2 linked regions of the Homo sapiens genome follow. Changing the gene in region 1 together with any one later gene gives a genetic interaction. Each region holds a gene or a part of one and is shown on either strand. Other genes may lie near its edges.

The links.
Region 2: changes in SUV39H2 (region 1) and EHMT1 together harm fitness more than expected from each alone (negative genetic interaction), as found in Homo sapiens cells (one large-scale study listed by BioGRID).

What each region holds. Positions count from the first base shown.
Region 1 is NC_000010.11:14,895,711-14,899,365, reverse strand, and holds part of SUV39H2 (histone-lysine N-methyltransferase SUV39H2), read right to left. Parts: intron 2,521-3,655; coding exon 1,849-2,520; exon of another isoform or gene 117-1,848; coding exon of another isoform or gene 54-116; intron 1-53. UniProt on the Homo sapiens protein: Histone methyltransferase that specifically trimethylates 'Lys-9' of histone H3 using monomethylated H3 'Lys-9' as substrate.
Region 2 is NC_000009.12:137,831,850-137,834,315, forward strand, and holds part of EHMT1 (histone-lysine N-methyltransferase EHMT1), read left to right. Parts: intron 1-2,466. UniProt on the Homo sapiens protein: Histone methyltransferase that specifically mono- and dimethylates 'Lys-9' of histone H3 (H3K9me1 and H3K9me2, respectively) in euchromatin.

The DNA of each region.
Region 1 (3,655 bases):
AGGGGAAGAAAAATGATAATGCAAAAGACTGATGACCTTTTTTTTTTAAACAGGGTCTCACTCTGTCACTCAGGCTAGAATGCGGTGGTGCCATCATGACTCCCTGTATCCTTTAACTCCTGGGATCAAGCGATCTTCCTGCCTCAGCCTCCTGACTAGCTGGATCACAGGTGCATACCGCCATGCCCAGCTAATGATTTAGTTTTTATAGAGATGTGGGGTCTCACTATGTTGCCCACACTGGTCTGGAACTCCTGGGCTCAAGTGAGCCTCCAGCCTTGACCTCCCCAAGTGCTGGGATTAACTGTAACTGGTTGATTTATGACTTTTTAAACAGGATTTGAGCAGTACATTGGAACACTGCATTACTTTCATTATAATTAGGATGTTCAAAAAGCTATACAACTATAGCTCTCTACAGGACACAACTGAATGTTAAGGACTAAATCTGCAAGTATATGCTCTAAATATGATCCAGGCACATTTTTCCTATAACTTATATATATGCAGTTACAAATGGAAAATTGTTAAAAATACAGGGGAGAAGCTATGTTAACTTTGGAATGGAAGGTTTTGTTTTTGTAGAATATGTTATTTTCATGCAATTCTGTAAGTCTAAGATCGTCATCTACAGTTCTGCTCTTAAGAACACAAGTTTTATGACACGCTCGGCTTAAGAAACCAAAAGTGTCTAAAGTACTTTATGTTACCAACCAAATTTGGCTGCTGCACTCATTAAGAATGCAACTTAAAAAATTTTGGTTAACAAAAAGAGTAATTTGATTATACAAGATCTTGTATACTGAATAATTTATAATAATCTACCACTGTCTAAAAGTGTAAGAATCAAAACAGCCATCTAATTTAGTTTCAGAATTATAGATGAATACAGATAATTATAGGTGACCCAATTCCAACTAAAAAATCCAGAGTTGACAACTCCAGATATGTAGCCATGCTTGTGTCTTTCTAGTCACAGCTCAACCTACCCTTCAGTTTGAAGCAGTGTGGTGCCATGGTGAAGACTACTGATTTTAGAGCTTTGAATCTCGGTTCTTATTACTATGTGACCTGTGTGACCTTGGGCAAGGTACTCAATTTCTCTACAATAATGGACATAACAGTACTACTTCTCAAAAAAAAAAAAAAAAAAAAAAAAAAAAGAAACAGTACTACCTCACTGAGTTTTGGAGAGGATTAGTGAATTAATACATCAAGTGCTTAGAATAGTATGTGACACACGGCAAATACTTTTTACATTTATATATATATATACATATATATGATTTGTATACAAATAAATTTGCTAGTATTTGTATGGTAGTTTTGAGAATGGTCTTCACAGTTCAAAAGTAAGTTACAGATTATGGATGCAATAAATGCTTGTGTATATTTTACAAAACTCATAAATATAGTATCTTTCATGTTGATCCAAAATAGAGTTCTGCCAACTACATTTAATCATATTTGGTCAAATAGATGAAGTAAATTAAAACTTTCAAGTTTCAAAGCAGCATGTGTTACATCTGAGTTTCTTCTTAGGACTTTTGGGTAAAAACAGTTGTCATATTTTAAATTTTACAAATCCTAGGTTTGACTAGTAGGAATGTGTATTTGTTGAAAGATGACTATATCAATTTGTTTTAACGTATATTTTTTATTCATATAAAAGTTTTTTATTTCTAAATATGCCAGTGAACTCTTCTCCTAAATCTGAATAAATTTCTACATATCTGCAAATGAAAATATCAAAATGTACCAAGTATCTCTTAAAGAGATAAAAAGGTAATTTTCCAAAAGTATAAACCTTGCATGTCCATCATTTACTACGTGGCAAATGAAACATACCTCTCCAACATATTCCATGACAAAACTCATTCTTTTAATCTTCACAAGGGTCTTTACACCCCAGCCACGTCCATTGCTAGTTCGAAAGATGCAAAGCGAATACTGTGTGCCTTTTTGTACAATCCTATTGGGACAATCAGGACCACACTGACACCTTGAGTTGCATTCATAGATGGGAGTACCAGGTGGGATTTTAATTTGTTGGTTTTTATTATAAGCCAAAAGAACTCCAGCTTCAGCAGGACAACATTTTTGAAAGAAGCAATCTGTGCATGAACAACCAAAGGTAGCTTCATTGACTAAGCTGATTCCAGGAGCTGGTTTGTATTCGTTAATGTAATAGAAGTCTGAAGGTGGGCCCTCTAAATCAACAGTATTTTCAACAAATATCATTCCTTTATGATTCTTTCTTCTGTTGAGTTCATCTTGCCATCTCTGCAGAGCTATCCTTTGTTTAGCCTTCTTCACAATGTACTCAGCAATGGCAGGTTTCAAAGTTTTGTTATTGTCTTTTGGAGTTATTGCTTTGCCTTTCTTTACCTGAGATAAATAATTATGCTTGTCATTAGAGAATTGCTGAAGCAGTAACGGGCACTTCAGATTTTGCAAAGGTTCCCAAGTATTTGTAGAATCTGGCCATCCTTTCCATTTTACAAGATAATATTCCATATCCTTAAAATACAAAAGAAAATAAAATGCAAATCAGACGGCTATTTCCCAGTTTTACCAAAAATAATTAAAAATCTTAAAGAGTAAGGTATCCAATACCATTTTTCTTACTAACAGTTCAGAACATGTAGTCACAGGTTCCTAACACATGAAGTATAAATCATACAAATAAAACTATTTTTCCTTATATTACATAAAATATGGAATTTAGATGTGGCATAACATGTTTGATAAGAGGCTAAAGAGTTTTACCTGGAAAAAGACAAAGGTACTGAAACTGATGACTATGTTACTAAATGGTGATTCAGGTTAAACCCAGATGTATTTATTTTGATCATGGAAATAAATGGTCCCAAAGCTAACTCTTTATGACCTAGGTTAGTGGCTTACTTGGCCAGCAATAGATTCAGGCATTCTTAACGTCCATAACTTAATATCAAACACCAGACACAAGGGAACTCATTTCTCAACATCATGGGCACACATTCTCTAGATGTTCTAGAGATGAACTATCCAATACGGTTATTACGAGCCACATACAGCTACTGAAAACTTGAAATGTGGCCAATCTGAATTGAGATATGCTTAAAATATAATACACACTGAGGCTGGGCACGGTGGCTCATGCCTGTAATCCCAGCATTTTGGGAGGCCAAGGTGGGTGGATCGCTTGAGCCCAGGAGTTCGAGACCAGCCTGGGCAACATGGGAAAACCCCATCTTTACTAAAAACACAAAAATTAGCTGGGTGTGGTGGTGCACGCCTGTAATGCCAGTACTAGGGAGGGTGAGGCATGAGAATCGCTTGAAACTGGGAGGCAGAGGTTGCAGTGAGCCAAGATTGCACCACTGCACTCCAGCGTGGGCGACAGAGTGCGAGACTCAGTCTCAAACAAACAAAACAAACAAACAAAAAAAAAAGCAAAAAAAAAAAACCCACACTGAATTTTGAAGACTTTGTATCATACAAAAAAAAGAACACTAAGTAACTTAAAACTATTACAGGTTGAAATAATATTTTGGATATATTGGATCAAATACATTCTTGAAAGCAATTTCAGCTGTTTCTTTTTACTTTGTTCAATGTGGTTAGTAGATGTTGAATGGCATCTGCAGCTTGCATTACATTTCTATTGGAC
Region 2 (2,466 bases), on another chromosome or scaffold:
GGGCCCCTTCTGCAGGCCCGGCCTCTCTAGTGGTCCCTGTGCTTTCGCCTCAGTCCTAGGATTGGCTGGGCTCCCTCCACAGGCTCCGCCTCCTACGTGGCTGCTGCACTTCGCCCCAGTCCTAGGATTGGCTGGGCTCCCTCCACAGGCTCCGCCTCCTACGTGGCCGCTGCACTTCGCCCCAGTCCTAGGATTGGCTGGGCTCCCTCCACAGGCTCCGCCTCCTACGTGGCCGCTGCACTTCGCCCCAGTCCTAGGATTGGCTGGGCTCCCTCCGCAGAACCCCCCAACCCCACGTGGCCCCTGTGCCTTCCCTCCAGTCCTAGGATTGGCCAGGCTCCCTCCACAGGCCCCACCTCCTACATGGCCTGTGTGCCTTCATTCCAGTCCTAGGATTGGCTGGGCTCCCTCCTCAGGCCCCGCTTCCCACGTGGCCTCTGCACCTCGCTCCCGTCCTAGAATTGGCTGGGCTCCCTCCACAGGCCCCGCCTTCCACGTGGCCTCTGCACCTCGCTCCCGTCCTAGAATTGGCTGGGCTCCCTCCACAGGCCCCGCCTCCCACGTGGCCACTGCACTTTGCTCCCATCCTAGGATTGGCTGGTCTCCCTCAGGCCCCGCCTCCCACGCGGCCTCTGCACCTCGCTCCAGTCCTAGGATTGGCTGGGCTCCCTCCGCAGGCCCTCCCCCCACCCACCCATGTGGCCCCTGTGCCTTCTCTCCAGTCCTAGGATTGGCTGGGCTCTCTCCGCAGGCCCCGCCTCCCACGTTGCCTATCTGCCTTACTCCAGCCGTCCTTCTCTGGACTGTTGTCTTTATCTGGTTCTGGTCGGGCAGAGATTTGTGTCACAGACTTTGACACCCCACCCATCTTAGAAGCTCGGAGCAGCGCTGTGTGCTCTGCCAGACGAGCTGCCCCTGGTGAAAGCTGGGCCTGGCCCCTCCAGTCGGAAGCCCCTCACTCTCCATTTTGCTGCTTATCAAGACCTTCGTGTGTGCGCCGTTGCTAGTTCCGGAATTGCATTCTGCACGAGGAGGGGTCGCCTATAGATTCTTAGTCCATCAGACCCCGAAGCAGAGGCCAAAGTCCACGCCAGGTGAGCCACTCTGAACTCTGTTTCTTTGGGGTAAACCAGGAGGCAGCTTCCCGCGCCTTTGGCTTTGGGGGCTGTGGCTGGTCCTGTCCTGCGGCCGTGCTCGCCTGGTTTACTGTCTTGTCACTGCCCGCGCCGTGAAGGTTGACGGAGAGCTGCTCTCGTCCACGCCTTTACCCGCTTGTTGGTTTGGGTTTTAACCTCTTGACCTCTGAGCGTCCCTGGCTCTCTGGTTAATGTTCATGCTGGGGCAGGTTGTGGACCAGGTGTCTCTGCCGGCAGGCCCCGCCCTCTCGGAACTCGGTCCTGGAAAGCCCCAGGTGCCTCCTTCCCCGTCTGCCTGGCTGTCGTCTGTGGTGTTGCCTCTTCCCGTCGCTGGGTAACAAACCACGCCACCCACCCGCAGCTCGCCATGGCGGCCACCCACTCGGCCCAGTGTGCGCAGCAGGGGTTGGGCGTGCCGGGCCTCGGGCTGCACAGGCAGGGTGCTGCTGAGCCCAGGTCCCTGTGGTTGCGTGGGCAGCGTCTAGGTTCCTTGCTAGCTGCCGGCCGGGACCACCTACCTTACTCCCACGCAGCTCCTCCATCCAGGCCCCAGCAGCTCCAAGCCCTGGGTCTCCAGAGAGAATTGCTTTTAAAGGGGTTGCGTGGTTAGGTCAGGCCCACCCACCTCGTCCCCCTCTCTATGGTCAATTCAGAATCCATCATCACAGGCCAGTGCCAGGGGCCAGGGCCCAGGGCCATGTGGCCACCCGGAATCCTGGGCTCCTCTCCAAGGCACCAGGGTGAGGAGGACGCCTCAGTCTCTTCGGCCTCGTGTTCCACAGTCACATCAGCACCCGGAAGGGCTGCAGCAGAAGTCGTTTTCTGTGGGCAGCCTCCGCCTGACGGTCCTCCCTGGTGCCATTCGCCACTGAGTCTTCCCAGACCCTCTGGGGACTGCTCCGCCTCCTCGTCACCAAGACAGTGTGTCCCGGATGCCAGCTCCATCCCTCCCGACCCCCTCAGCCCCTGCCACTGCCTCACGGGGCTCTTGCAGCCCCGGCCTCCTTTCTCCTATTGGTGCCAGACAGCCCCATGGGTCCTCGGGTGGGATGGCGCTGTCCACATTCCACCGCGCTGGAAGCCCCATGGGGACGCCGTCAAGGGAACGGCCCGCACCACCCCCACCCCACCACAGACGGAGGCCCAGCGAGGACGGCAGGGTGCGGGGTGGGTGGCCACACAGCGAGGAGAAGGCTGGCGGAGGCTCCGCACCGCCGCCACAGGTCACTGGAGAAGGCCCCTCCTGCATGGCGGGCCTGCGCCCAACTGCAGGCTCCGGGACTGCCATGCATGGCCGTACCCGGCGAGGCCGGCGTGTCGGGGCCTTGCT